Linked DNA regions of Homo sapiens: region 1 is linked to region 2. A link means that fine-mapping ties the variant in region 2 to the expression of a gene that starts in the linked region. Tissue or cell type: hypothalamus. Region 2 holds a variant in brackets; the other region holds the start of a gene. All regions are shown on one strand. Distances are from middle to middle.

Region 1 (2,934 bases), 27 kb after region 2:
CAAATTCATTTTCTATTTTTTTAGTAACATATCTCTTAAAAAGCACACTACCTTATAAAAAACTTCATCAGAAATTAAATTTAATGCAAGTAAATTGCCATCTGATACTTCCACATGCTATCATAATCAACTGTAATAATAAAAATGATTTATCCAATTAGAAAAGGACAAGATATATTTTTCTCTGTATTTCTATAACTTTTGCCACTCCATTGAATACATTGTATGTTGGACATAAGATTATTAGTAATGCATTCTTGAGATCTTTTATTTTGGAATGATGCTAACTCTGTCTCTTTGCCAATTCTAATACCAGGTTCCAAGTAATAACTCTACAGTACAAAGAGAACTGAATATTCATTCTAGGGCTATAGGATATGAACTTCACAATTCATTTGGGTACATTCTCATTGAATTTCCTTCAAAACAATCTGTTCCTGGTGCCCAGTGATAATTCAGTCGGGACCAGCATGACTAAAAGGAAGGGGATATGCTAAGGCTCAGCAAAGTGACCCTAAATGAGAGATATGTCCCAGGATGGAAAGAAGAAGACGTGGTTTAACCAAGTTATACTGACTAATCTAAGCAGTCCACTCATCCTTCCATTTTGGGAAAGGAGTGGGGGCAGCCTAAGAAGAACATATCTGGATTGGGAAGAACCGTCTTTCTGGGCTAGGGATGGGGAACAGAAAGGGAGTATGGAAAGAAAAATTATAAGAGATTTGACTGAAGCAAGGAAAAAAAGCAAATCCCCAAACGTGCTAATCCTTGAAAGTAACTATCTTTCCCAAACTACTGCTGTTACCAGCAAGTGATCAGGAAGACTAGGAGCTATTTCTGACTGTAAATGAATTGTATAATAGCTCTGCTGCAGTTCTGTGACTTCCAAGCCAGGAATTAAATGCTCTTTTTAAGAATAACAAAAAACAAAAGCATTTCCTATGCTAGTCTCCCAGTAAAATGTACATGTTTTGGAGACTTCAAAGGTATTATGTGAGTTCACATTTAGCAACAGCTTATTAATAACCCTCAAGCTGTCAGAATCTCTATAGTTACCATTTACAATTTTATACTGTGAAAAAATACAGATCAGTGAAAGCATAAAGACAAGTCAGAATTCACTTTGAAGAGGGTCTGAGGCCTGGGAGAGTCTCTACTGTCTATTGAAGAATGAGGCATGTATAAAATAGTTGGTTGAATTTCACTGATCTTCCCAATGTGAACAAATATACTATGTATATTGTGTGTATTTCTAGAAATCAATGGCAGCTGCTGATGGTGTTGTAATTAGAAATCTATATAGATTATAGATGTTTTAGAAAGATGGTGCCAATCCTAAAAGATTTGTGTGGGCTAAAAGTGCTTGTACTTACTTTTTTCTGCACTTATAACTGATTTGGTTTTAAAATTGTGTGCGTGTATCTGTTCTTTCTCTGTTGTGGCAGCTTGTACTATTAAAATAATAGAGAATGTTAAATTATTTTGATGTGAACTGCAAATGATTTTTTTTCATAAAGTTTAACATTTTTATCAGCATTGTTTTGCTTTGTACTTGTATAAATATGTTTTATTTTAGCACTTCAAAATATACTTGCCTGTTTCTCAGTTGTCTAAATCATGTTGTACTTGGTGTTTGTGAAGCCAGTTACTTTTCAAAAAAATTAAAAAACCTATAATATGATTTTAAGATTATTCCCCTCAAATGTTTAGAATGTTGTCTTAATAGTGTTTTCTGAGATGAAAAGAGCCATGATACTAATTAATCTTGAATACTGGATGATCTATACATTTGAATTATGGGGTTTACAAAGTAAGCAGTGGACTGTATAGATTTAAATGAAAATATAAACCAACCACAAACCAACCAGAGATGTTGTCCCCAAACACATCTACAAACAACTGTTACATAAAGAAGTACTTAAAAAAATATATAGGAAATATGCATTGTTTATGCATCTAGACATACAAATTATAGAAATAGTTTCATAATTATATGTGTTGATAGAGGTAACATCACACAGATAAAATAGATTATTTGTGTGTGTATAGATGTGTGTTTACAAACATACATATTTATATAGACATTTGACTTTTGAGTCCATCTGCATGTGTCTCTGTGTATATGTGTGTTTGTGTGTAGATGTATGTGCATATTACATAATTTTTCCAGAAAAAAAAAAAGTTTTACTTTGACTGATTCTTGAGCAAATATACATTCCCTGGACACAAATTAGTGAAAAACTAACAGCAGAATATAAGGTAGATGCTTGATGTATGGAAGAGAAAAACAAGGTATATTTAAAAATATATTTGATTTATGCTTCTGACATTGTATTAAATGCATAATGATATATATACATATGTAGATACATATATTATACAGAATGTGTTTGATCTTAACAAAGAAAGCCATTTTATCTGTTTTGTCAGACTCTTCCCTTCAGTATCTTTTATTCTAACGTGATATGAATGGTAATATGTTCACATAAAATTGAGGATGAAGTGACATATACAAACCAGGTACAGGAAATTACCTTCTAAAAATCCAAAGAGCCTTATCAGACTCCATCAAATTATGGAAGGCCATTTAAAACCAGCGGATGCAATAGAAATAGCATTGAATTAAAAGCCAGGATCTCTTACCTGTCACCAACTGACTTTGGATAAATCACTCTGATTTCTCTACAACTTGTTCCTCTTGCTTTAAATGCAGAAGTGAGTTACAATAATCTGTGAAGTTTCTATCATTTCAACATTCCTGATAAATGCTCAATAGTAGCTATTATTAGTGTCAATGTAGTATTTAGTATACAGTTAATATTCAGCAGGAAGCTTAAATTTGTTATATCAATGTTATTTGTGGAGCTTAACAAGTTCCTGTCCAACTTAAAGCATATATCCTGGAGGAAACCTATTGAGGTTTGAACTCATATG
Region 2 (2,934 bases):
GGGAGTGGGAGGTAAGTGTAGGGATTTGTAAACCATGATAAAAAATTTCATAATTTACTCAGAGAAATGGGTAACTAACAGCGTTTTGAGCAGATGAATGATATGAAAAGATTTCTATTTTGACAGGATATTCTGCTTGCTGGGTGGAGGTTGGAATGGGTTTGGTCTGGGTTGGGGAAATTTAGTAACAGACAAAGCAGAACCAGTTTGAGAAACTGTTAAAATTTTAACAGGTATTGGTGGCTTGGGCCAGGGTAATAAATACTGGTGAGAAATGGTCAGATTTTAGGTATGTTTTGCAGATGGAGCCTGCAGTATATGCTGACTGATTACAAAAAAGTCTGTTCTTTCCTCCTTTTTTCTACAATTACTTTATCTCAAAACTCTGTACATTAGTTACCACTTTCTGTAAACATCTTTAATATTTTCCATCTTCCTTGATCTCTTGACCAACATGTACAGAATGTCTTCAGTTTGTATTTATTATTAAAAACAAAACAAATAACAACAGCAAATCTCATTGGAGATTTGATCATCCCTAAAGTTACAATTCCATTTTATTCATTTATTCATGGAGGTATTCCCTCAGAAAATGTTGGTTGAGGGCTTACATAATGGAGGCACTATGTTTAGGGTTTATTCACATGGTCATTTTTCTTTAAGTCTCTGCACTTCCATGTTTATGCTCAAGCTTAGTCCTAAAACTCTGCCATCTTTACTGCAATTTTGGTATGAAAATCCCTTATAGGATTTTCTGTAACATTCACAGTGACTTGTCATATGACTATAGTTCAAATGTCCCTCATTCAATAACTTTTACTATTTTTGGCACTTTCTTGGCCAAAAAGACTCTTTTCCTCCCATATTGTTTTTCTCTGCTCATACCATACTTCTATTCTAAATAATAAAAAGTAATTGAGGAAAGAGAGAATTTAAATTTGCTTTGTAAATGGGATGCATCTATATTGGTTTAAATGAGAGGTTTCCTTGAAGAACACACTCCTACCCACTTACTCCCCAGACTTACCCTCCTGCCTCATTAGTGTCCATTCCATATTGAGT[T/C]ACTAAAATTTACACATAAGACATATGTGAAATATGCAACATTTTCCAACTCGCTTTCACAGACTTCTTAGAGAAATCAGGCTGTTTTTTTCTATGAATAGTTTAAAGCATTATAGCATGAAGTAAAATAGGTATACTGTGGTTTCTACACATATAAGAAAATATCTCCCTGTGGTTTTCACTAAGCTGAATGACAGCTAGCTTAGGAATGGAAAACGAGTTTAAGTGCTCACAAGGCTTAGCACAATGCTCCTTCAAGGGGAAGACTACGGGCCATAGTAGATGTCAGTGTGAGAGAGAAAGTGGCGAAAGAAAATTATTTTTTAAGACAATTTTATCTATTGGAAAGAACAAAACCTGGAGCAGGATAAGCCTATGACAAAACTGGAGTAAGGGAAATGTGCCTCTGGTGCCTTTAGCTTTCTTATTTGCTGTGTTTGTGTTTTTTCCCCTCCATTCTTGAACTCTCTAGGAAACTTAGGCTCTTTCTCCACTCATTTTTAACCAAATATGTTCTCAGAGAGTCTGCAATTTCTATGAGAAAACATGTCTCTAAGTATGCCATGGGATACTCACAACAGCATTTGCATCTTGAGTGTCCTCACTCATACAGGATGGAGAACATTTGCTCCTTGGTATCAGAGAAAAATGAGGAAAGAATTCATCAATGGAATCTTCCTAGCATCTCATAAGTTGTAGCACATTTGTAAATTCTACTTCTATATATTGCTCTTTGCTTCATCCACTGACCTTTCCCTTCCAAACCATATAGAGTCCCTGTCTATAATTCCTATTTAATGATTAAACCCCCCTTCTTATTCAACCGCTTCACTAAACACTCCATTTACTGTTGTTTTCTTAAATTGAAACCCAATTCCCTCCTAAGGACATTTCTACGCCATATCTCTCTCAAGTAAAGTTTCTTATTCTTCCATATCACGTGTTTCACAGGACACAGAGATGGAGGTCAGCAACTCAACGCTGCTTCCAGGCATATATCACACCCTTACATACAAAAATGTGAAAATTAAAGCTCTGACTGAATTTAGACTCATGGAATCTAGTTATCCCTCTATCTTTTAGCTTCATTTATAACTACTGTTTACTGCCAACTTCTGGATAAAGAACTTCTGTCTATCCCAAGCCCGGCTATCATTCTGAGTGAATTTAGTGCTTGTATAAAGGACAGATGAGTACCAAGCTTCTTTCTTCCCCCCAGTTCTAATACATTTTAATGTTCCTATTCCTGGTCACTTACTCAAACTTGATCAGCCTCACATAAGGCATCATTATTTCCAATATCAAAATCTCTCCTTTTCTGCCAGCTTCAGGCACAATTCTCCATCTATCTGCTACTTCACCTAATATACACATTTATTATTTAAACTTGTTTATTTTCTTCTAGTCTTTCACTTCATTCTGCACTCATTTATGTATTCTGAATCACATAGCCAATATAGAAATTTCAGTAATCCAATATTCAGTAGATATTGGTAGGAAAGAGGAATTGAGGTGAAGAAATGAAATTTTTTATCCAAATAATAATGGAAAATTACATTTACTATCTGATCCTAAGTTATTCTTACCTGCACATCTTTTAGATTTACCAGATGAGTATAGGCTCTTGTAGAACTCAGTACAGAAGAGCTAGAACTTCCTGGACAAAGAAGGTACAAGAAGAAGAACAACAACAACAAAAATCTTTACAGAAGATAAGCAAAACTTATTTCAGAATAAGTCATTCTGAAATTTATTAAATCTATTGTGAGAGTTTTTCATGCCAAGCTTCTGGCCTATAAACTAAAGTGTCAAAGCTGTATTAGGCATAAATCTAGAAATCCATAGTTTATAAGAAAACTTACAGGTTTACAA

Direction of the effects. Alleles are on the strand shown, and positions count from the first base shown. SD is a standard deviation of normalised expression in the study named.
In carriers of allele T in region 2, the expression in hypothalamus of the gene that starts at base 1,681 in region 1 tends to be higher than with C alone (small effect, 0.39 SD a copy in GTEx).

Evidence for each region. PIP is the estimated chance that this variant, and not a neighbour inherited with it, causes the effect.
Region 1: it holds the start of GRM5-AS1, and the variant in region 2 is fine-mapped to the expression of GRM5-AS1 in hypothalamus (GTEx, PIP above 0.99).

The regions. Positions count from the first base shown.
Region 1 is chr11:88,503,323-88,506,256 of GRCh38, reverse strand. It overlaps GRM5-AS1 (GRM5 antisense RNA 1), which reads right to left and starts at 1,681. Exons shown (of 6, transcript NR_049724.1): 1 at 1-1,681. GRM5 (glutamate metabotropic receptor 5) reads left to right here. Exons shown (of 10, transcript NM_001143831.3): 10 at 1-1,615.
Region 2 is chr11:88,530,268-88,533,201 of GRCh38, reverse strand. The region is part of intron 8 of GRM5 (glutamate metabotropic receptor 5); the gene reads left to right. Among named protein-coding and RNA genes, the nearest start is that of GRM5-AS1, 27 kb to the right of the region's middle. The variant T/C (reference allele first, on the strand shown) is at 1,063.